3 separate regions of the Homo sapiens genome follow, and all the other regions are linked to region 3. Evidence: fine-mapped expression QTL. A gene starts in region 3. Each other region holds a variant in brackets. All regions are shown on one strand. Distances are from middle to middle. Region 1 holds the start of LOC124904789. Region 2 overlaps GNG7 (G protein subunit gamma 7). Region 3 holds the start of GNG7 (G protein subunit gamma 7).

Region 1 (8,175 bases), 190 kb before region 3:
GGAGAGTGACTGCTGATGGGGATGGGATGTCTTTGGGGTGATGACAGTATTCTGGAACTACACAGAGGTGATGGTTACACAACTCCTACATTTTACATTTTATTTAATTAATTAATTAATTTATTTATTTCTGAGACGGGGTCTTGCTCTTGTTGCCCAGGCTGGAGTGCAGTGGTGCGATCTCGGCTCACTGCAACCTCCACCTCCCAGGTTCAAGCGATTCTCCTGCCTCAACCTCCTGAGTAGCTGGGATTACAGGTGCCCGCCATCACTCCCGGCTAATTTTTGTATTTTTAATAGAGACGGGCTTTCACCATGTTGGCCAGGCTGGTCTCAAGCTCCTGACATCAGGTGATCCACCTGCCTCAGCCTCCCAAAGTGCTGGGATAGCTGTCACGAGCCACTGCGCCCAGCCGCCAAAACACTTTCAGGGAAGGTTGTACCCGCGTAGAGGTCCTTTGGCAGCATGTGACAGCTTGTATCCTCCTGTGTTGCTGCCAGCATAGAGCCCAAAAGCTCTTCTTAATCTTTCTTTGTTTTGTTTTGTTTTGAGACAGAGTCTCACTCTTGTTTCCCAGGCTAGAGTGCAGTGGTGCGATCTCGGCTCACTGCAACCTCTGCCTTCTGGGTTCAAGCAACTCTCCTGCCTCAGCCTCCCAAGCAGCTGGGATTACAGGCACCCGCCACCATACTCAGCTAATTTTTATATTTTTAGTAGAGACAGGGTTTCACTGTGTTGCCCAGGCTGGTGTTGAACTCCTGACCTCAGATGATCCGCCCACCTCAGCCTCCCAAAGTGCTGGGATTACAGGTGTGAACCATTGAGCCCAGCCTTCCTCCTAGATTTTCTTTTCTTTTCTTTTTTTTTGAGACACAGTCTCACTCTGTTGCCCAGGCTGGAGTGCAGTGGCGCAATCTCGGCTCACTGCAACCTCCGCCTCCTGGGTTCAAGTGATTCTCCCGCCTCAGCCTCCCGAGTAGCTGGGACTACAGGAGCCCACCACCACGCCCAGCTAATTTTTTTTTTTGTATTTTTAGTAGAGACAAGGTTTCACCATGTTGGCCAGGCTGGTCTCGAACACCTGACCTCATGATCCGCCCTCCTCAGCCTTCCAAAGTGCTGGGATTGCAGGTGTGAGCCACCGCGCCCGGCCTTTTTTTTTTTTTTGAGATGGAGTCTTGATCTGTTGCCCAGGCTGGAGTGCAGTGGCGTGATCTTGGTTCACTGCAGCCTTTGCCTCTTGGGTTCAAGCAATTCTCCTGCCTCATCCTCTTGAGGAGCTGGGATTATAATCACTTGCCATCACGGCCAGCTAATTTTTATAGTTTTAGCAGAGACGTGGTTTCACCGTGTTGACCAGGCTGGTCTCGAACTCCTGACCTCAGGTGACCCGCCCGCCTCGGGCTTCCAAAGTGCTGGGATTCCAGGCCTGAGCCACCGCGCCCGGCCCCTCCTAGATGTTCTAAGTACAAATCCGAAAGCCCACTGGGCCTGAACGTCCCTGGTTTGTGGTGCTGCCTCCAGGGGTCCCCTCCTGTTACCTCTTCCCTGGGCCGGTGAAGGGAGGGTGGACGGGATGGTGTGGGGCCGCGGGTCCCCATGCCTGGAGCCAAGCCTGGGGCATCTGCTTGCATGCTAGGAGCTCCCTCCCCAGCAAGGCCCGGGCCAGAGAGAGAAGGAACAGCCCAGAGCCAGGAGAAAAGGGAGAGTGAGGCTTTTTATTGTGTATGAATTCACGTGGTATCGACAACTCCACACAATATTAAAACACTGCGAGAAAGTGGGTGCGGCACACCTGGAATTTTAAAAAAGTCAGAAATAAAAACAACCAGACATCCCAATGCAGATGGCATAGAACCTGCTAGAACCACAGGCGGCGGCTGGAAACAGGAGACAGGTCTTTACGAAGGTTAGATGGGCAGCGGTTCCGTGGACAGAGGAGGAGGCGCGGCTGGCCGGCATATGGCTTCTGTGCAGAGGGCCTGGCCTCAGGCCGTGGACTTTTTAATAAGTGACCCCTTGAGGAAGGGCGTGGTGGCTCCACCTCCACCCGGAAGCCCCCCCGGGTCACTCACGGGCGGACAGGTGTGTGACGGCCCTCTCCTACCTGCCCCAGAACTTGGGCAGGACGGGCTGTTAACTTGGAGATGGATGCGTGGCCTGGAGGCCTAGCGTTGCGCCTCGGACACGGTGGCCGGCCCGTCAAAGGGACCACGCAGAAGGAGGGAAACAGGAGCACCTTCCGCCCTGGCCCAGCCGCCCCGTTTATGTCCCCAGAGGCCAGAGGTCGCAGCTGAGCTATCTGTGCTTGGCCTGGGGTTACCCCTGGGGAGGGTGGGAGAGGGGTGAGGGTTCTGGCTCCTTCCTGGAGAGAGGAGGGCAGGGGAGGCGGAGCTGGTCCGGGAAGGTGCCCAGGTGGGTCACAACAGGGTCGGGGCCTGGCCCGCTGTGGCCCTTCACCTGGCTACTGGTGTCTCGCTCAGCAGCGGGGAAGGCCCGTGGGAGACCCAGGCTACAGAAGGAGAAACGGCCTTCTCTCTCCCACCCGACGCTGCCTTGTGTGTGTGCGTGGGTGGGGGTGAGTGTCCTTAACTCTCTTTTCCCCTGGCGTAGCTGAGAGAGGCTTGTCCCCCCAAGGCTAGAGCTGCTGCTGCCACCCCCGCCCGCCAGCTCCCCGTCTGGAGGTGCACGCGCGCTCCTGGAAACGCCCATAAAACATGCGTTCACCCCAGGGATTCCCGGCAGAAAAGCACATGTGGCGGTCGGTGTGTGCACTCGGGTGCCACGTCTGCAAAGGTATTTTCCACAGTGTGGTCACTGAAGTCTACTCAAGAAAAAAAAAAGTGGAGAATTTTTTTTTTAATCCCCCAAGCTAGAAAGAAACCCACAGGCTTCTGGCAATGGCCACCTCCCTGGGGTCCGGGAGATGGTGGGGTCTGGACAGCTCAGGGAACCCAAGGCCCTGTGGACAGTGAAGGAGAGGCCAGCCTGTCCTTCCCCTCCCCGAGCCTCAGTTTACCTGGAACGCTCAGCCCGTTTAACCCCACCATCTGCACCAGCCTAGGAGCCCCGGCTGCCTGGGGCTGCGTCTCTGCAGCAGCCTCCGTTCCCTGCTGGCATTTCTGGGGTCACATTGTGAGGACACACCAGTGGGGCCGGGCTTGGCACAGCTGTGCCCCCTCCTCCCTCTGCCCTGGCAGCGGGGGCTCGGGGATTAAGGCCTCTTTTAAGGAAAAACGGGGTGGGGTGTGTTTGTTCCCAGTTACCAAGATGGCTTGTTGGAAAGGGTGGAGGCAGGCGGGCTCTCCCTGCCTGGGGTCCTCCCAGGGTCTCTGGAACAGGCTTTTGTCCCTTCCTGCCATTCCTGCTATGCGTGGTGGGGACGCCCACACCCCAAACCCTGCCGGCTCCCAGCCCAACCACAGGAGGCTGCAGTCTCCGGGAGCCTCTGGGGCTCTCCCGGGCCAACAGCAGGTTTGGCGGGTAGGGCTCCCCGAAGCCCCAGCCCTCCCGGACCTGCCGTAGAGAGCTGGGTGCCGGGGGTGGGGAGCCCGGCTGTGGCCTGTGGGAGCTGCCCGAGGTTGAGGAGTGGAGGTCACTCCCCCGACACCTGCACACACACCCGGAGCCCTCTAGCCTTGGCGAGGTGGGAACCCTGGCAGTCACCAGCTCAGGAAGTGAGCCAAGCAGGGATCCCCGCCTCACGGGCCTGCACGGAGGACCTGGGCGGCCGTCCAGGAACCCTCTCGGCACGGGTTCTTAGACGCCTGTCTCCACTGGGGCCGGAGGGACAGGACTAGGCTAGTTTTATTCTACTACTTGCTTCTAGGCCAGCCCCGTGGAGGGGGTCGGGGCGGCCAGGCCTCCTGCGATCAGGGCTGCGTGGGGTCCATCTCAGGTGTGGCCGCAGGTGATGCCGGCAGGCCCTGGAAGATGTGGCTGCACCTGCTCCCGTCCGTGCCGCAGAGGAGGACGCAGTCATCTTTCAGAAGCCTCCCCCCGACCCCATGACATCTTCGATTTCCACTTGCCGCTGGGAGGAGTGGCCCATCCTGCGTCTAAGGCATCTCCCGGCCTCAGACAGCCGTCCTGGGTTGCACGGGGGTGGAAAAGCAAAAAGATCGGGTTCGAGCGACAGGGTAACGTTTTGAGCGGACGTTTTGATCTCCGGGACAACGTCTCACCTCCCAGAGTCCTTCAGAGTCACTCCAAGATCATGGAACAATTTTGTACACACAGCAGCACAGGGTAGCCCCACCCGCCCTGCCGCGGCTCCCCAGCCTGCATTTTCTGTTTGAAAAACGTCTATGGTGGATGCCAGAGGGTAGGACAACCTGGAAGAGCCAAGGATGGTCAAAGCCTCTCCCAGCCACGCGGATGCCTCATGCTTAAAACACACTGGGCGCGGTGGCTCATGCCTGTAATCCCAGCACTTTGGGAGGCCGAGGTGGGCGGATCCCGAGGTCAGGAGTTTGAGAGCGGCCTGGCCAATACGGTGAAACCCCGTCTCTACTAAAAATACAACAATTAGCCGGGCGTAGTGGCACACGCCTGTAGTCTCAGCTACTCGGGAGGCTGAGGCAGGAGAATCGCTTGAACCGGGGAGGCAGAGGTTGCGGTGAGCTGAAATCATGCAGCTGCACTCCAGCCTGGGTAACAAGAATGAAACTCCATCTCAAAAAAAGAAAAAAAAAAAAAATCCAAAAACATGATGGGCCGGGCCGGTGACGGCTTCCCTGGGGCAAGTCCCGAAAACCCATTTCTGGCACAGAGGGGACCCTGCAGAAAGGACCCATGGCTAACATCATGCAGGGGAGTCACACTTGGCAACTTTTCATAGACGAAGCCCCCTCC[A/C]GACCCCCACACTCCATCGTGCATTCATTGCAGGATCGTGCAGTTTAGCGACGGGTTCAACCATCACAATCCGAGTTTAGCCGTATGGAGTAACAATTTTTTAAATAAAGAGATATTTCCAAAAAACTTCATGATGTCACCTCCCGCCCCCCATCTCAATTTTACCTCTACTTAAAAACAACACAAAGCATTCCAGTGACCCTATGAAGTCTTTTTACCAATGGCCAATTCTCCCGGAACTATTGCCACCGGGCGAAGTCACCTCCCTTTCCCCCTCGGCGCCGGTCCACAATTGAAACGGCAATCGAGAGTTTTAAAAAATTGTTACCCCATCGCTGGGGGATTTCAGTTATTCCGAACGGGAAGTGGCCGTAAAGCCTCCATCCCTTTTGGCCCAAACTGAGAGGGCCATGGGGTCGGACCTGAAAATTCATCTCCACCTACAAGGTCCATTCTACCCCATCCGGGCGGTGGGAACGCCTTTTTTGGCGGGGAGAGGGGGGATTTCTTTTGGAATTAAAGGTTTTGGGGACTTGAGATGTTTTGTTTGAGCTAATTACTGAATGATGCCCTGCCTGAGACAGAGACAGAGACAGAGAGAGAGAGAGAGAAAGAGAGAGAGAGAGAGAGAACATATGAGAACACAGTTATAAAATAATACAAGGTTTCTTGTCCTTAAAGGGGTTCTCCGAGGCAGGGACTCCGACCAGCAGGGGGTCGTTCCGGGCATGTTGCTCACAGTAGCTCATGAGGTCAGACGCCGCTTTGGAGACCTGTGTTTGAGCACAAGGAGGAGACAGAGGAGACATAAGAAGAGGCTGGCACACCCGGGTTCACAGCAGCACCATTCCCAAGAGCCACAGGCGGAAACAGCTCAGGAGCCCATTGATGGGGGCGTGGGCAAACAGTGCGGCCCGTCCACACGCTGGAATATTACTCAGCCATGAAAAGGAGTGAGGCTCTGACATAGGCCACAACGTGGATGCATCTCAAGGGCCTCATGCTCAGTGAGAGATGCCAGACACAGAAGGCCACACAGTGTGTGATCCCATTTCTTTCTTTTTTTTTTTTGAGACAGAGACTCTATTTGTCGCCCAGGCTCTAGTGCAGTGGCACGATCTCGGCTCACTGCAACCTCCACCTCGCGGGTTCAAGTGATTCTCCTGCCTCAGCCTCCCGAGTAGCTGGGATTACCTTCATGCACCACCACACCCAGCTAATTTTTGTATTTTTAGTAGAGACAGGGTTTCACCATGTTGATCAGGCTGGTCTCGAACTCCTGACCTCGCGATATGCCTGCCTCAGCCTCCCACAGTGCTGGGATTACAGGTGTGAGCCACTGCGCCCGGCCGTGTGATCCCATTTCTATGAAATGTCCAGGACAGGCCTATCCACAGAGACAGGAAGGGGATGCGTGGGTGCCGGTGCTGGGGAGTGATGGCTGATGGGGGACAGGGTTTCCTTTTGGGGTGATGGAATGTCCTGGAATAAACGTGATTGGATGCACAGCATTGTGACTATATTAAATATCACTAGTGGTAAACTTTATATGTGTCTTGGCCAGGTGCGGTGGCTCACACCTGTAATCCCAACATGTTGGGAGGCGGAGGCGGGAGGATCACTTGAGCCCAGGAGTTTGAGACCAGCCTAGGCAACACAGTGAGGCCCTATCTCTACAAAAAATACAAAAATGAGCCAGGCATAGTGATGTGGGCATCTGTAGTCCCAGCTAACTGGGGGGCTGAGGCTGGAGGATTGCTTGAGCCTGGGAGGTTAAGGCTGCAGTGAGTCAAGATTACACCATTGCACTCCAGCCTGGGGGATGGAGCAAGACCCTGTCTCAATTAAGATAAATAAACAAATAAATAAATTTATGTGTGTCTTTTCCCAAAATTAAAAAAAGAAAAATGCAGTGGTGTGATCACTGCAATCTCTTGCTCCCCGGGTTCAAGCAATTCTCCTGCCTCAGCCTCCTGAGTAGCTGGGACTACAGGTGCCTGCCACCACGCCCAGCTAATTTTTGTATTTTTAGTAGAGACGGGTTTCAGCATGTTGGCCAGGCTGGTCTCAAACTCCTAACTTCAAGTGATCCACCTGCCTTAGCCTCCCAAAGTGCTGGGATTACAGGCGTGAGCCACGGCACCTGGCCTAAAAAATATTTTTTTAAAAAAGAAAAGGCTGAGCTTCCTTCAGCAAGCGTTGCCAGATTTTGAACACAAAGGGTCAGGGACAGATGGACCCCGTTTTCGGAGTCCAAGACCTCATTCTCACCCCAAGGAAGGAAGGTCCTGATAGGAAAACGCTGCCTGCACATTTGATGAGCTTGAGGGAGGTTTCACGGTGACACCCGGCCAGGGGGCTGGGCCCGGTGAGGACGAGATAAGCCCGTCTCCATGTTTCTCTTGCAGCCTGAACCCCCTGATGACTCCAACCCTCTGAGGGGCTGATGCTTCCGGTCACAGGAGGGACCCCCTGCCCCGGGCTGCTGCCAGCCCGCCCCAGGCTACACGCCCGTCTCTCCTGGCCATGCCTTTGGGGGTGCCGCTGCCACTCCCCGCTTAGCTCACCCCAGCAGGGCTGGGGCTGGGGTGTCCGGTGTCCTGGGTCAGGCTACACGGGGACACGTCCATCTGGCCCTGGATCTCATCCCGTAACCGGTAACTGTGTCTCTGTGGGACTCAGCGACCTTTCTCTCCTTGCTTTCTTTCCTGGAAGGCGAGAGGGCGATCACAGGGGGAGGATTAGATGTGGCAGAGGTGAGGGGATGATCCGAGAAGGATCGCAGTGTCGCTTCACGGAGGTGCCTTTGTTATCTGTTTTTGAGACAGGGTCTCGCTCTGTCCCCCAGGCTGGAATGCAGTGGTGCTATCATAGCTCAATGCAGCCTCCACCTCCTGGGCTCAAGTGATTCTCCCGCCTCAGCTGGGAGTACCTGAGTAGCTGGGACTACGGGAGTGAGCCACTACACCTGGCCATAATTTTCATTTTTATTATTTATTTATTTTTTTGAGACAGAGTCTCACTCTGTCAGCCAGGCTGGAGTGCAGTGGCGTGATCTCGGCTCACTGCAACCTCCGCCCCCTGGGTCCAAGCAATTCTCCCACCTCAGCCTCCCAAGTGGCTGGGACTCCAGGCGCACGCCACCACGCCAGGGTAATTTTTGTATTTTTAGTAGAGACGGGGTTTCACCATGTTGGCCAGGCTGGTCTCAATCTCCTGACCTCAGGTGGCCCGCCCACCTCAGCCTGCCAAAGTGCTGGGATTACAGGCATGAGCCACCGTGCCTGGCCTGGCCATAATTTTTAGAATAATTTTCTGGT
Region 2 (8,175 bases), 26 kb before region 3:
GCCAGGAGAATGGCCGTGAACCCGGGAGGCGGAGCTTGCAGCGAGCTGAGATAGCACCACTGCACTCCAGCCTGGGTGACAGAGCGAGATTCCATCTCAAAAAAAAAACAAAACAAAACAAAACAAAACAAAAAAAAACCCAGCAGGTCATCAAAACCAATGAGTCTGAGAAGTGTCCCAGCAGAGTGTAAGGAGATGTCGGGAGTCAATGGCATGTGGGTTCCTGGAAAAAACAAGAAAATGGAAATAAAGACCGGGCGCCGTGGCTCACGCCTGTAATCCCAGCACTTTGGGAGGCCGAGGCGGGCGGCTCACCTGAGGTCAGGAATTCGAGACCAGCCTGGCCAACATGGTGAACCCCTGCCTCTATTAAAAATACAAAAATTAGCCGTGCAGGGTGGCAGGCACCTGAAATCCCAGCTACTTGGGAGGCTGAGGCAGGAGGATCATTTGAACCCAGGAGGTGGAGGTTGCAGTGAGCCAAGATCACACCACTGGCACTCCAGCCTGGGTGAAAGAGCGAGACTCCATCTAAAAAAAAAAAAAAAGAAAGAAAGAAAGAAAGAAAAATAAAATGTAAATAAAGTGTGGAGTTGAGTTCGTGATAATGTATGGATACTGGTCTTTTTAGAAAATTTCTTTCTTTCTTTTTTTAGAGAGAGGGCCTTGTACTGCTTTTGTATATTTTAAACATACAATTGTGTATATTTCCAATATATTTCAGAGTTTTCTTAGGATACATTTGTGATAATTTGTTACACAGAATTAGCTAACTAATATAGGCTGTTTCCAAAATTCAAAACTACCCTAAAAGAAATCTGAGGCCAGGGACCGTGGCTCACGCCTGTAATCCCAGCACTTTGGGAGGCCAAGGTGGGCGGATCACCCAAGGTCAGGAGTTTGAGACCAGCCTGGCCAACGTGGTGAAACCCCATCTCCACTAAAAATATAAAAACTAGCCAGGTGTAGTGGCACCTTGCCTATAATCCCAGCTACTCCAGAGGCTGAGGCAAAAGAATTGCCTGAACCTGGGAGCCAGAGGTTGCGGTGAGCCGAGATCACCCCACTGCACTCTAGCCTGAGCAACAGAGTGAGACTCCATCTCAAAAACAAAACAAACAAGAAAAAAGAATCTGAAATATAATGGAAATACACACAATTGTATGTTTGAAATATACAAAAGCAGTACAATCCACTCTTGAAGGGAATCAGAATCGTCACACTGCTGGGAAAAGGGCAAGGTCTCCAAAGGTGACTGGTGTTTTTGTTTTTTGTTTTTGTTTTGTTTTTTTTTGAGACAGAGTCTTGTTCCGTTGCCTAGGCTGGAGTGCAGTGGTGCAATCTCAGCTCGCTGCAACCTCCACCTCCTGGGCTCAAGCGATCCTCCTGCCTCAACCTCCCAAGTAGCTGGGATTACAGGCGCCCACAACCATGCCCGGCTAATTTTTGCATTTTTAGTAGAGACGAGTTTTTACCATGTTGGCCAGGCTGGTCTCGAACTCCTGACCTCAGGTGATCCACCCGCCTTGGCCTCCCACAGTGCTGGGATTACAGGCGTGAGCTACTGCGTCTGGCCTGCAAGGTGACTGTTTTAAAACACAGAGGACACCTGCTGAGATGCAAAGTCAGGGAGTGTTGAAGAAAACAGAGATCTCCTTATGTGATGGTCGTAACTCGCATTTCCACCCTCGACAGCGCCGACTCCATCGGGCAGCTTTTCTACATAGTCAAGTTTGAAAACTGTGCCATTGTACGTCACCAGAAACGGACTCGGTTAGAAAACAATGCTCTTTCGTAATGTATACCGTACTACTTTTCCTAAAACGGAACTGTCATAACGCCTCCCCCTCTGGCTGAGACTAGAATAGATAAAAATCCAGATTTTCACACACTCGGGACTGGTAATGTTTTAACACATGGAAAACGCGACAGGGTTACAGACTGCTTTAGCTTCTCCAAACAAATCCGCAACGGCGCCAAGCACTCCTAACAGTTGGACGTGTTCATAAATGAACCCAAACAGATCACGTTCTCGGAGACGGATGCACGCCAGAAATTCCTGTCGTGCCCCTGAAGAACTAACAGGTCTCTCTCTGCAACGGTGGACGACTGGTCAAACCCTGGAACCAGCCAGGAACAGCAGCAAGTGCACGGGCTCGGGAATGGGAATCTGGCTTTATGGAACCTCCAGGCTCAAGGGGACACCAGGAAGGGACAGCTTCGTGACCAAGCCCGGTGTGACCCACCAAAAATCTGCAACCACGAAGACCAGGAAATGCCAGCAGTGCCGAGCAGGAGAGGTCGCTTGACGGTAAAGAAGCAGGGAGCGTTATTTAGCAAACCAGGCTGGTTAAAGAGTAGAGAATATCAGATGTCGCGGCCCCTCTGCAGAGGACAGTTCTGAAGGACAGCGATGACCTAAATTGGCTCCTATGAGGGACTGCTGGGGGAAATATTTCCCCAGGATCCTATAAGATACAAAGAAAAACATATGAAAACAGAAAAGATATTCCCGACACTTGGGGGTCTCAATGGGGCGGGGGAGGTCTGAGGACATCTGTGGTTTTCACGATTGGGGGGAGCTCCTGGTATGGAGTGGGTGGAGGCCAGGGACACTGCTCAGCACCCTGCAGTGCCCAGGATGGCCCCTCCCCAGAGAATGATCCAGCCCCAATGTCCACAGCACCAGGGGGAAGAGACTCAAAGTTAATTATTTGGAAGAAAATATTGTTGAGCCAGATGCCTCAGAATGGGACCTTATTTGGAAACAGGGTTTCTGCAGATGGACTTATTATTAAGATGTGGTTGTGCTGGATTAAGATGAGCCCTAAATCCAATAACTGATGTCCTTATAAGACGAGGGAAATTTGGACACAGACCCACACAGGGAAGGGGGCCGTGTGAGGATGGAGGCAGAGACTGGAGCGATGTCACCAGCCCAGGGGCGCCAAGAACCGCCGGCCACTTGCCAGATGCTGGAAGAGGCAGGAAGGATCCTCCCCGGGAGCTTCTGGGCCGGGAACGGCCCTGCCCACACCTTCGTCTCAGACTTCTGGCTTCTAGAACTGCCAGAAAATCCATTTCTGTGGTTTTGAGCCATGCAGGTTGAAGTCATTTTCCATGGGCGCCCTCAAATATCCAAACTTCACCCCACAGAGACCCTCCCCTAGGCACCCACATCCTGGCATGTTCAGACACCCTCCTCGTGAACATGCACAGCCCCCAAGGCACCAGATAGACATTGATTTCCATCTAGAAGTGTCCGTCAAACCCTCAGCGATATATCTCTGCCGCCCAGGCTAGAGTGCAGTGGCACAGTCTCAGCTCACTGCAACCTCCACCGCCTGGCTCAAGCGATCCTCCCACCTCAGCCTCCCAAGGAACTGGGACCACAGGCGCGCACCATCATGCTTGCCTAATTTTTGTTTTCGCTTTCTGTAGAGATGGGGTTTCACCATGTT[G/T]CCCAAGCTGGTGTCAAACTCCCAGATTCAAGTGATCCTCCCGCCTCGGCCTCCCATAGTCCTGGGATTACAGGTGTGAGGCATCGCGCCCAGCCTCTTTGGTGGTTTTCAGGAACAGCTAGTTAGTTATTCTGCAGATGGAGGTTCAGGAGCTTGCACCACTTCCTAGACCCGGCTGGAGGAGTTGGGTGTAATTTTCAGCCGGGCGGGTGCAAGACTCAAAGAGATGTGTGGCAGAGAGAAGCTGTTCAGACAGCTTCTGGGGTTGCCAGGAAGAAACAAGCCACTTGCTCCGATCTGCACATTCCCTCCCTGTCCAGGGCTGATTTCCACCCAGGCAGGACTCCCGATTCCCAGAGAATCTCAAAGCAAGGCATTCTCCTGGCCGTGATCCGGCTCTCAGCTCTAAAGGGACTCCATATCTTTACTGCAGACCCAAATCTGTGTCACCACAGAGGAAAAACGGCCGCTTAATTACACTTGCATATATGCTCGCAAGAATTCTTCCAGGGAGCAGGATCTGGGAACGTCCTCTGGAGACAGGGCCTTCCAGGAGACGCTGAGCTCGGTGTTGGAGCATGGAGGCTGAATCTAATCCATCAACAGGATGCCACAGGGGAGCAGAGAATTCCATTTTTTTTTTTTTGCTTCAATTCCTTTCTATACAACCGTGGTTCTCAACCAGGGGTCCTTCTGGTCCCCAGGGGATGCTAGGTGGTGTCTGGGGGCATTTGTGACTGTTATGACTCAGGGATGCTCCTGGCGTGGAGTGGGTGGAGGCCAGGGATGCTGATCAGAACCTTGCAGTGGCCAGGACAACCCCACCCCAGAGAACGACCCAGCCCTGAATGCCAAGGGGGAGAGACTCTGCCTTAATTATTTGGAAAAATATTGTATCTGCTCCCTGTTGACACCAGACACTAGAAAAAATTCCCGATGGGGTGGATGGCAGAAACCAAGGGGGGCCCCAGCTCCTGCGATTCTCCTCCTCTCTCCCTCCCCACTCAGGGTGTGGATTACAATGTGTGCAGCCTCCTGGAACCTCAGGAGGACAGAGGATCATGAGACACAGAGTTTCTTGGGGATCTGTGGAATCCCCTAACCCCCGGGGGTCTCACCTGGGGGTGATTCTGCCCCCCATGGGGCACTGGGCAATGTCTGGGGACATCTTTGGTTGTCACAACTCGGGGTGTCCCTGGCATAGAGTGGGTGGAGGCCAGGGACGCTGCTCAGCACCCTACAGTGCCCAGGATGGCCCCACCTCAGAGAACGATCTGGCCCCAAGGTCCACAGTGACAGAGAGTGATAACCGCTGCCATAATCTATAGGACTGACCATAGCCACATGCATATGGTCACACAAACATGAGTGTGACTGTCCCTCTGACTCAAAGGACAAAGCCAGTCCCAACCTTTCTAACCCTGCCACCTGTGCTGACCACCAGTGGCCTCTGTGTGGATGTTAGTTAGGGTTCAGCAGCCTTAGGAAAACAGAACACCAGGCATCCAGACCTTCCACTGTGGCCCTGAGTGGAAGAGGAGGTGGCGGTGGCCGACGCCAACACTGTCACAGCAAGAAACAAGAGAGTGGGTGTGACTGTGGTCACTTCCATCTCAGGGCACATGCTACATTGAGGAAGTAAAACCTGGGGGGAGCGAGATATACAAGAAGTGAAAGGTGACTTGTAGAATGTTCTGGAATCTTCCAGAAGCTTCTGGAAACTTCCAGAATTTTCTGAAATATAGTAGGTATTGTGGCATAGCAAGGCTTTGGATTCAGAAGCTGCTGGGCTTGGGCACGGAGTCAAAAAAGTAACAGAGGAAAAGCCACGGAATGCAAACTTCCAGGGATGACATGGTTGCCACACAGTGGGCAGGTGGGTCACACCCACTGTACACAGGTCACACTTGGCTCTTTGAACTCAGTCACCTATTATGGGTGGAGGAACCAAATCCTGGGATGGGGTAATAAATGCATACGGTTTCAGTTTCCCCATCCACAACACAGGGAGAAGAATCAGATAAGGTGTCCAGTCTCGGAGGGTCCTGGGCAGCAGGCAGCGCCTCCAAGATCATCACCTCCAACCCTGATTCTGCCAAGCCCCAGCCTGGTAACTACTTCTCTCAAGGGGTCCCAGCTCTCAGAGCTAGGAGTGGCCTTCAACGCCAGGTCTACACCCCATGCCAACAGAATCCCTTCCCTGACCTTTGCACCAGCCAACCCATCCTCCGTCATGCAGCCTTCGACGATCGGAAACCAACAGCTTCTCATGACGGTCCCTCCGATTTCCAGACAAGCCTGATTCTTAAGCCAGCCCAGCCAAGCTACAGCTCCTATCCCATCTCCCCAAGAACAGACTTCATCGTTTTCTGAATTTGGTCCACGCCCATGGTGTCCGTGAGGAAAAATAACAACATAAGTAACATATAGTACAATGCTAATTTTTTGAGACGGGATCTTGCTGTTGCCCAGGCTGGAATGCAGTGGTGCAATCATAGCTCACTGCAGCCTCAACTTCCTAGGCTTCCAAGCAATCCTCCTGCCTCAGCCTCCCAAGCAGCTGGGACCACAGGTGTGCACCACCATATCTGGCTAATTTTTAATAAATTTTGTAGAGATAGAGTCTCACTATGTTGCTCAGGCTGGTCTCGAACTCCAGGGCTCAAGCAATCCTCCCACCTAAGCCTCCCAAAGTGCTGGAATTACAGGTGTGAGCCACCACACCCAGCCAATACTAATATTTATACATAATATATTGAATAATATTAGCAGTGATTCCAGCAATAACAGTGATAACCAGGACCACCACCCATCCAGGTCACAGCCTCGTAGTCCATCCCAATCTTTTCAATGACCCTAGGGAGTGATTCCTATCCTGTCTGACACACAAGGAAACAGAAAGGTTCCATGTTTTCTTCAAAATTCACACAGAAAGAAAGTCACATGGTGGCTAAGTAGGCATTCTAAATCCAATGCCTCACCATGCCTACATTCCAGAAAACTCTAGAAGGCTCTGGGAGTTTCTAGAAGGTTCCAGAAGATTCCAGAACCCTCCATGATTCGCCACCTTTCACTTTTTACATATCCTATTCCCCCAGGTCCCACTTCCTCAAAGCAGGACAGAATTTTCAACCCCTTGCATTCCCATCTGCATCTTCACCTTACTCATTGTATTAACTCCAGGCACCAGGTAGCACCTTCCTAAATTACCTGGGCTTGGCAAGACCTAAATCAAAGACATGACCTGCTCAGTAGTCCCAGATGTGAAGAAACTCAAAATCCAATGCCAGAATCCCTTAAAACAGAACCAGTCAGTGTCCACAGCTCTATTAGGCTTGACCCACAGTGGAGAAAGATGAGAAACCCACAGGGAGAAAAACAGGACCGTCTTCTTACAGTCTAAGACTGTCAGCCAGGCACGGCAGCTCACGCCTGTAACCCCAGCATCTTGGGAGACCGAGGAGGGAGGATCGCTTAAGCCCAGGAGTTCGAGCAGCCTGGGCATCATAGTAAGACCTTGTCTCTTTTTTTTTTTTTTTTTTTTTGAGACAGAGTCTCGCTCTGTTGCCCAGGCTGGAGTGCAGTTGTGCGATCTCGGCTCACCACAACCTCCACCTCCCAGGTTCAAGTGATTCTCTCTGCCTTAGCCTCCCCGAGTAACTGGGATAACAGGCACCCGCCACCATGCCTGGCCAATTTTAGTATTTTTAGTAGAGATGTGGTTTCACCATCTTGGCCAGGCTGGTCTCAAACTCCTGACCTCAGGTGATCCACCCGCCTCGGTCTCCCAAAGTGCTGGGATTACAGGCATGAGCCACCTTGCCCAGCCACCTGTCTCTATTTTTTAAAAAATTAAAACATTTTAAAATTAAAAATTAAAAGCTCTGAAAAGTGACCACATAGACTAACAGTGGGTTTTTTAGTAAAATACACTTAACACAAAATTTACAATTTTTTTTTTTTTTTTTTTTTGAGATGGAGTTTCCCTCTTGTTGCCCAGGCTGGAATGCAATGGTGAGATCTCAGCCCACTGCAACCTCCGCCTCCTGGGTTCAAGAGATTCTCCTGCCTCAGCCTCCTAAGTAGCTAGGATTACAGGCATGCATCACCACGCCTGGCTAATTTTGTATTTTAGTAGAGGCGGGGTTTCTCCATGTTGGTCAGGCTGGTCTTGAACTCCCGACTTCATTCGTTTCTTTTTTGAGACAGGGTCTTGCTCTGTTGCTCAGGCTGGAGTGCGGTGGTGTGATCACAGCTCACTGCAACCTTCGTCTCCCGAGCTCGCATGAGGGTCCCCATGTCCTACCTCCCCGTGAGCCCTTGTGATTGTTTGTTGTTCTGGTTTTTTAATTCTAGCCATCTTACTGGGCGTGAAGTGGTATCTCACCATGGCTCTGATTTGCATTTCCCTGAGGACTGACGCGGAGCATGTTTTGAAGTGAAACCGACAGTTTTTGTTTCTTTGATCCTCCTGTGTAACCCTCCCAAGTAGCTGGGACTACAGGTGTGCCCCAGCAGGCCTGGCTAATTTTTATTTTTATTTTTTTTGTAGCAACCAACTTTTTTTATTTTATTGTTTTTGAGACGGAGTCTTGCTCTGTTGCCCAGGCTGGAATGCAGTGGCACGATCTCGGCTCACTGCAACCTCCACCTCCCAGGTTCAAGCGATTCTCCTGCCTCAGCCTCCCGAGTAGCTGGGACTACAGGCGCCCGC
Region 3 (8,175 bases):
GCACATTGCAAACATTGTCATCTTCCAATGCTTGCAACTGACAACTTCAGGCCATCTTCTAAATCAGTACTAAGTGTTCAAAAGCCACATAAAAGGCCCACCTAGAAAGGAGTAGCCTTTTTTTTTTTTTTTTTTTGAGACAGAGTCTCACTCTGTGGCCCAGGCTGGAGTGCAGTGGTGCAATCTCAGCTCACTGCAACCTCTGCCTCCTGGGTTCAGGTGATTCTCCTGCCTCAGCCCCCCAAGTAGCTGGGATTACAGGCGTGTGCTACCACGCCCAGTTAGTTTTTGTATTTTTAGTACAGATGGGGTTTCACCATGTTGGCCAGGATGGTCTTGAATTCCTGACCTCAAGTGATCCACCCACTTCGGCCTCCCAAAGTGCTGAGATTACAGGCGTGAGCCACCGCACCCAGCCATAAGTAGGCATTTCTAATGTTTTCTAAAAGCAGTGAGACCTTACTTCTCCCCTCTCCGAATGACAGCACTAAATGACTTAAAAGCAATCCTCAATTCTGAATGACCCCACTTCCTGCACATCAAAGGGGAGATGAGGTCGTTAAAGGAGAAAATAAATCAGTTTTGTCTATAACAAGGGTTCCACACTGGAGTATCTCTGTCCCTACAGGACGCTGGGTGATATCCGGAGACATCTGTGGTTGTCACAATGCGGGGAGCTCCTGGTGTGGAGTGGGTGGAGGTCAGGGATGCTGCTCGGCACCCTGCAGTGCCCAGAAGGCCCCACCCCAGAGGACAATCAGATCCCAAATGTCCGCAGCGCTGGGATAGAGAGACCCAGACGCACCCCATGAACTGAAGTTGTAAACTCAAAATTTCAAGCGTATAATCACAGCTCGATGTGGTTCCTTACGGGGTGCCCCTAATCAGAATGACCCAGGCAGCCTTCTCTTGAACAGGTGCATCTGTTACTTAACGAGCTTTGAGACTCTCCTGCCACCAGGTGTGGGCAAAGTCTTCTTTCTTTTCAGTTTTTTACTCACTTTTAATAATATGGAAACAGGCTCCATATTTGAGACTCTGTCTCAACATAATAATAATAATAACAATAATAATAAGACATATTTTTGTTGTTGTTGCAGTCCTTTTTTTTTTTTTCCTTTATTTTTTTGAGGCAGAGTCTCTCTCTGTTGCCCAGGCTGGAGTGCAATGGCGTGATCTTGGCTCACTGCAACCTCCACCTCCTGGGTTCAAGCGATTCTCCTGCTTCAGCCTCCCAAGTAGCTGGGATTACAGGCAAACGCCACTATGCCCAGCTAATTTTTGATATTTTTAGTAGAGACAGGTTTTCGCTATATTGGCCAGGCTGGTCTCAAACTCCTGACCTCAGGTGATCCACCCGCCTCGGCCTCCCAAAGCGCGGGGATTACAGGCATGAGCCACCACAACCAGCCATGCAGGTTATTTTTTAAAGCTTCTGGGGGTGACCCTGATGTGTGCTCCTAAGGTTGCAGGACTAGAGTCAAGTTCCAGTCACTTCCTTTCCTCTCCTCTGTGACAACCCAGTCATCCCACTCCTCCATCTCCAAACCCACCAAAGAAAAAAACTGGATTGAGTCCATTATTCTCCATGCTTCAGGTACCCTCACTATATGCTAGGAAATAGTCCATGCATACATCCCGTAATTCGACCCTGAGAGGCACATGCTACTGTTTTTATTATTCCCGCTTTGCAGGGGAGTAAACAACACCTCCAAAAGATGATACAGCCAAATCCGCAGCGAGAGGCTGGGTCGGAACACACACAGGCGCACCTCCCAGAGGCCCCCGACACTCCATCAAGGCAAGATCGCAGCATCCCACGACGGGAACAAGTTTGTGAACTTGGCATTTGCCTCGCTGACACCTAGCAACCGTGTGAAGACGCTTAGCTGGGGATCCGCTGCCTCTGTTCATCAAGCCTGTCTTCCACCGCCCACCTCCCAACCCCTAGCAACCCCCGCTCCCCAGGAAAAATAAAGTGCCACCCACGTCGCTCAATAGCACCGTCCCAAAAACTCCCACTTTAGTTCCTGAAAAATTCAGTCACCGACAGGAGCCTTTCTCCTTCCTGAAGCGTTCTCCTTGGCACCCTATATCCTAGAAATAAACCTCAAAAAGTATTCCGAACTCCCGTCTCCTTCAACTCACTGTTCCCCAGGGGGTTCTGCCCCGTGCCCAGTTCTAGAGCAAACAATTAACATCTCCCCCAAAAGTAGAGGGGTGAGTCCTCTCCAAATTCCTTTTAACTGGATCCTACCTGAGACACCTCCCCACACCCCGTTTTCCTCCTGATTAGTCAATGTCTAGCAAAACACCTGCCCCCAGGTGTCTCCAGCCTGGGACCTTACCCCCACCTCCCTTCTCACTAACTCACCCCAACTTCCTTCTCCCTGAACCCCCTTCCACCCCACACACTCACAAGCTCCCCATTTCCCCTGATAGCCCCCAGACCCTTTCTGGAACAAGCCTGACCCCCACCTGTATGCTCCAGCCACTCCCTGGCTCACCCCAGCTTTGTCCTTCTGCCCCTTTTCAGCTAACCCTAACCCCTGGGCCGTCAATCACACCCCCCCATCTTCACCAACCCCATTCCTCAGTCCTCTCCCCAGACAACCTCAACATCTAATTCCCTCTGCAGCCCCCTCTCCAATGAACCCCACTTCAAACTCCATCCCCAGCCCCCTCTCCAGCTCCCTGCAAACCTCAACCCCACTCCCAGCTCCCTCTTCAAAGAAGCTGCACCCTTGACTCAACCCCTGTTCCCCGCTCCAATTAACCTCAACCCCCAACACCATCCCCAGCGTCCTCCCCAGCTAACTCAGATTTCCAATTCCACTTCCAGCCCCCTCCCCAGCTAACCTCGACCTACAATTCCAGCCCCCTCCCCAGCTAGCTTGGACCTCCAATCCCACTCCAAGCCCCCTCGGCAGCTAACCTCGACCTGCGACTCTAGCCCCCTCCCCAGCAAACTCAAGACCTCCAATTCCACCACCAGCCCCTTCCTAGCTAACCTGGACCTGCAATTCCAGACCCCTCCCCAGCCAACTCAGACCTCCAATCCCGCTCCAAGCTCCCTCCCCAGCTAACCTCGACCTGCAACTCCAGTCCCCTCCCCAGATAACTCAGACCTCCAGTCTCACCCCCAGCCCCCTCCTCAGCTAACTCAGACCTCCAATCCCACCTCCAGCCCCCTCCCCAGCTAACCTGGACCTGCAACTCCAGCCTCCTCCCCAGCTGGCCCTGATTTCTAAGTGGAGTCCCAATGCCCAGACCCAATCCTTCCCCAGCTAACCTCGATCTGCACCCCCTGCCCCGTCCCCAGCTAACCTCGACCTGCAACTCCCGCCCCCTCCCCAGCTAGCCCTGAGCCCCAAGTGCAGTCCCAATCCCCAACCCCAGCCCCTCCCCAGCTAACTTCGACCCCCTAAGCGCAGCCCCGTCCCCAATTCCAACCCCAGCCTCCAGTTGCAGCCCGGGTCCCCAGACCCAGCCCCCCTCCTCAGCCGACTCCGACCCCCAACTCGGTCCGCAGCCGAATCCGAGCTGTCCCAGTCCCCTCTCCGGGACGCCGGCCGCGCCCTCACTTCCCCTGGCCCGGTTCGCGGGCGCCCTTACCTGCGCTCGGGCCCCGCGGCCGCCTCAGCCCCGCCGCGCAGCCGAACCCTCCGCCCCGGCCCGCGAGCGCTCGCTCCCCTCTGCGGGGGCGGGGCCGACACTCGGGGGGCGGGCCCTGGCGTCCCGGCAAGGCCAATCGCGAGCCCCGGCTGCGGGAGGCCGGAGCGGGGGCGGGGCGCGGGGCAGGCAGCGGGGTAGGCTGCGCCCAGGAGAGTGGGGCGGGGCTCCGGGCGCGGGCGGGGCCGGGGGCGGGGCGAAGAGCGGCTTTCCAGGGTGACTTCGTGACGTCAGGAAGGCGCGAGTAGTTTCGCGAGTTCGAATCCCGCGCTAGGTGAGCTGGTTCGAATCCTGCATGCCAGCTCCGGGGGCTCATTTGCTGGGGAAGAATGTCAGTGATCATAACTGCTGCACCGCTTTCTTGAAGACTTTATAGGCTCCCTCTCGTGGGACCCTCCGCATAAGGCCAGAAGGCGAGATTACTATCCACATTTTACAGAGGTGGAAACTGGGTCTCAGAAAGGTGAAACCTAAGGTCATTTGCCCAAGCCTGTCTCATCATTTCCAAGATTTCTCAGTTTCCTAACTCATGGCCCTGGATCCACAAATTCCTGAGCCCCAACACAGATGGAATGAACCAGAATCCTATAGGGAACTGGACCCTGAAATCTGTGTTTTGTTTAGTTTTCGTTTTGTTTTTGAGACAGGGTATCACTCAATTGCCGTGGCTGGACTGCAGTGGTGCAGTCATAGCTCACTGCAGCTTTGAAGTCCCAGGCTCAAGCAGTCCTTCCACCTCAGCCTTCCGGGTAGCTGGGGCCACAGGCACGCACCACCACATCCAGCTAATTTTTGTATTATTAGTAGAGACAGGGTTTCACCGTTTTGGCCAGGCTGGTCTCCAACTCCTGACCTCAGGTGATCCACCTTTCTTGGCCTCCCATAGTGCTGGGATTACAGGCGTGAGCCACCGTGCCTGGCCCTGGCTAATTTTTTTTTGTTAGAGATGGGGTCTTGCTATGTTGCCCAAACTGGTCTTGAACTCCTGGGCTCAAGTGATTCTCCTGCCTCTGCCTCCCAAAATGCTTGGATTACAGGCCTGGAATCTTCATTTTCCACAAGCTCCCTTGGGAATATTGGAAAACACTTTGTATGTCTCCAAAAGCAGTACACAGCCCTGGAAGGAAGATGGAGCCACCATATTCTGTGACCTCAGGGATTTCATCAGGCGCTGACACTGTGTGTCCTTGCCGCCCCACCTGAGCCCTGGGATTGGAGCTGCTGGCCAAAATCCAAGATAAACTTCCCCAGGGTTCCTGTCATCCCTGCAAGAACCTCCCTGCTCATCCTCTGGACTCCAGTGGCCTGCCCTGCAGGGCACAGAGAAACCTCCATCTCCCTGCTTGCCCTCCTCCAGGCTCTCCCCAGCTGGCATCCCCCAAGAGGAATGACTGTCTAGATAGAGCTTGGGAAGGGCACGGTGGCTCACGACTGTATTCCCAGCACTTTGGGAGGCTGAAGCGGGAGGATCGCTTGAGCCCAGGAGTTCAAGACCAGCCTGGCAACATACTGAGACCGCAACTCTACAAAAAAATTAAAATATTAGCCAGGCCTGGCGGCGCACACCAGTAGTCCCAGCTACTTCGGAGGCGAAAGCAGGAGGATCGCTTGAGCTTAGGAGGTTGAGGCTGCAGTGAGCTTTGATCACACCACTGCACTCCAGCCTGGGCGATAGAGTGAGACTCTGTCTCAAAAAAAAAAAAAAAAAGTGTTAAATACACAATGCAATATGATTCGGCCATAACAAAGAATAAAACCCTGTCATTTGCAGCAAAATGGATGGGACTGGAGGTCATTATATTAAGTGAAAAAGTGAAATAAGCCAGACACAGGAAGACAAATAGGGCATGTTGTCACTGATACGTGGGAACCAGAGAGTTGATCTCATGGAGGTAGAGAGTAGAATGATCAATACCAGAGGCTGGAAAGTTGTGTAGGTTGAGTGGGGGGGAAATGAAAAGAGGTGAGTTATGAGTACAAACATTCAGTTAGACAGAAGGAATACATTCTAATGTTTGATAGCAGAATAGGATGTATTCTGCTATCAAATATAGTATTAGAATAAATTCTAATGTTTGATAGCAGAATAGGGTGACTGTAGTTAGCAACAATGTATTGTACATTTCAAAATAGTTAGAATAATGGTGGCTTACGCCTCTAATCCAAACACTTTGGGAAGCCAAGGTAGGAGAATCCCTTGAGGGCAGGAGTTCGAGACCAGCTTGGGCAACATAGCGAGGCTTCATCTCTATTTAATTATTATTATTATTATTATTTTCTTTTTTGTGTGTGTGAGATGGAATTTCGCTCTTGTTGCCCAGGCTGGCATGCAATGACGTGACGTCAGCTCACCACAACCTCCGCCTCCCGGGTTCAAGCGATTCTCCTGCCTCAGCCTCCTGAGTAGCTGGGACTACAGGAACGTCCCACCACGCCAAGCTTATTTTTTAGTACAGACGGGGTTTCACCGTGTTAGCCAGAATGGGCTCGATCTCCGGACCTCGTGATCTGCCCATCTCGGCCTCCCAAAGTGCTGGGATTACAGGCGCCCACCCGGACACAGTGGCTCACGCCTGTAATCCCAGCACTTTGGGAGGCCAAGGCGGGTGGATCACCTGAGGTCAGGAGTTTGAGACCAGCCTGACCAACATGGAGAAACCCCGTCTCTACTGAAAATACAAAATTAGCCGGGTGTGGTGGCACATGCCTGTAATCCCAGCTACTCGGGAGGCTGAGGCAGGAGAATGGCTTGAACCCAGGAGGCAGAGGTTGTGGTGAGCCGAGGTCGTGCCATTGCACTCCAGCCTGGGCAACAAGAGCGAAGTTCTGTCTCAAAAAAAAAAAAAAGCTAGAAGAGAGTCCTTGAATTGTTCCCAACATATAGAAATGAGAAATAGTCTAAGTTATGAACACCCCAAATACCCAAACATGATCATTATATATTTTATGCATATAACAAATACCACATGTACCCCATACATAGATACAAGTATTTGTAACAATTTTGAAAAAGTGTCATGTGAAACCATGTTGGAGCCTAAGACAAATGGAAAAGGTGGCATGTCCCAATAGACATATTTTCACATATATTTTCCCATCAACTTCCCTTTGGTTTTTTGTTTGTTTGTTGTTTATTTGTTTTTTGTTTGTTTGTTTTGAGATGGAGTCTCACTCTTGTCGTCAAGGCTAAAGTACAGTGATGTGATCTCGGCTCACTGTAAACTCCATCTCCCAGGTTCAAGCTATTCTCCTGCCTTAGCCTCCCGAGTAGCTGGGCTTACAGGCGCCCACCATCATGTCCAGCTAACTTTTGTATTTTTAATAGAGACGGAGTTTCACCATGTTGGCCAGCCTGGTCTCAAACTACTGACCTCAGGTGATCCACCAACCTCGGCCTCCCAAAGTGCTGGGATTACAGGCATGAGCCATTGCGCCCGGCCCCTTTCTTTTGTTTTTTGGGTTTTTGTTGTTGTTGATGATGATGTTGTTTGGACACAGGGTCTTGCTCTGTCGCCCGGGCTGGAGTGCAGTGATTCTATCACAGCTCACTGCAGCCTTGATCTCCCAGGCTCAAGTAATCCTCCCACCTCAGCCTCCTGAGAAGCTGGGACCACAGATGCATGCCACCATGCCTAGCTAATTTTTACATTTTTTTTTTTTAGAGATGGGATCTTGCTATGTTGCCCAGGCTGGTCTCGAACTCCTGGGCTCAAGTGATCCTCCCGCCTCTGCCTTGTTTATTTTCTTTCTTTCTTTCTTTCCTTTTATCTGAGACAGGGTCTCACTCTCTCATCCAGGGTTGAGGGCAGTGGCTCGATCATTGCTCACTGCAGCCTCCAACTCCTGGGCTCCAGCGATCCTCCTGTCTCGGCCTCCTGAGTAGCTGGGACTGCAGGCACCCATTGGGATTACAGGCTTGAAGCCACCTCACCTGGCCCAATTCCCCTTTTTCAAATTTAGCAGTATCCCTGGTCAAAAAAAGAAACATTAAAAATTAAATTAAAATTGTAAATATTGAGATCACTGTGGATTCATACGCAGTTGTAAGACATAGCATAGAAGGAGGGCCAGTACCCTCTGCCCAGCTTCGCCCAATGGCAAACTCTTGCAAAACTGCAGTGAAATGTCATGAACGGGATATTAACATTGTTAAGCTTAAGATAGAGGATGTTGGCCAGGCGCGGTGGCTCACGCCTGTAATCCCAGCACTTTGGGAGGCCGAGGCGGGCGGATCACAAGGTCAGGAGATCGAGACCAGCCTGACCAACATGGAGAAACCCCGTCTCTACTAAAAATACAAAATTAGCCAGGCGTGGTGGCGCATGCCTGTAATCCCAGCTACTCAGGAGGCTGAGGCAGGAGAATCACCTAAACCTGGGAGGTGGAGATTGCAGTGAGCCGAGATCGCATCATTGTACTGCAGCCTAGGCAACAAGAGCAAAACTCCTTCTCAAAAGAAAGAAAGAAACAAACAAACAAAAAAAGGCAGAGGATGTTTCCATC

The links.
Region 1: its variant is fine-mapped to the expression of GNG7 in cerebellar hemisphere (GTEx, PIP above 0.99). The same link has a PIP of 0.9 or more in cerebellum.
Region 2: its variant is fine-mapped to the expression of GNG7 in whole blood (INTERVAL, PIP above 0.99).

What each region holds. Positions count from the first base shown.
Region 1 is chr19:2,509,520-2,517,694 of GRCh38, forward strand. GNG7 (G protein subunit gamma 7) reads right to left here. Exons shown (of 5, transcript NM_052847.3): 5 at 1,700-5,628. The coding sequence ends at 5,503. It overlaps LOC124904789, which reads right to left and starts at 4,052. Exons shown (of 3, transcript XM_047439801.1): 1 at 4,006-4,052; 2 at 3,422-3,572; 3 at 2,321-2,815. The coding sequence starts at 4,052. The coding sequence ends at 2,321. RefSeq lists enhancers at 2,042-2,181, 2,238-2,748, 2,862-2,941 and a silencer at 2,332-2,511. The variant A/C (reference allele first, on the strand shown) is at 4,856.
Region 2 is chr19:2,673,160-2,681,334 of GRCh38, forward strand. All of the region lies in intron 1 of GNG7 (G protein subunit gamma 7), which reads right to left. Among named protein-coding and RNA genes, the nearest start is that of GNG7, 25 kb to the right of the region's middle. RefSeq lists a silencer at 4,923-5,071. The variant G/T (reference allele first, on the strand shown) is at 3,462.
Region 3 is chr19:2,699,031-2,707,205 of GRCh38, forward strand. GNG7 (G protein subunit gamma 7) reads right to left here and starts at 3,664. Exons shown (of 5, transcript NM_052847.3): 1 at 3,616-3,664. RefSeq lists a silencer at 3,560-3,949.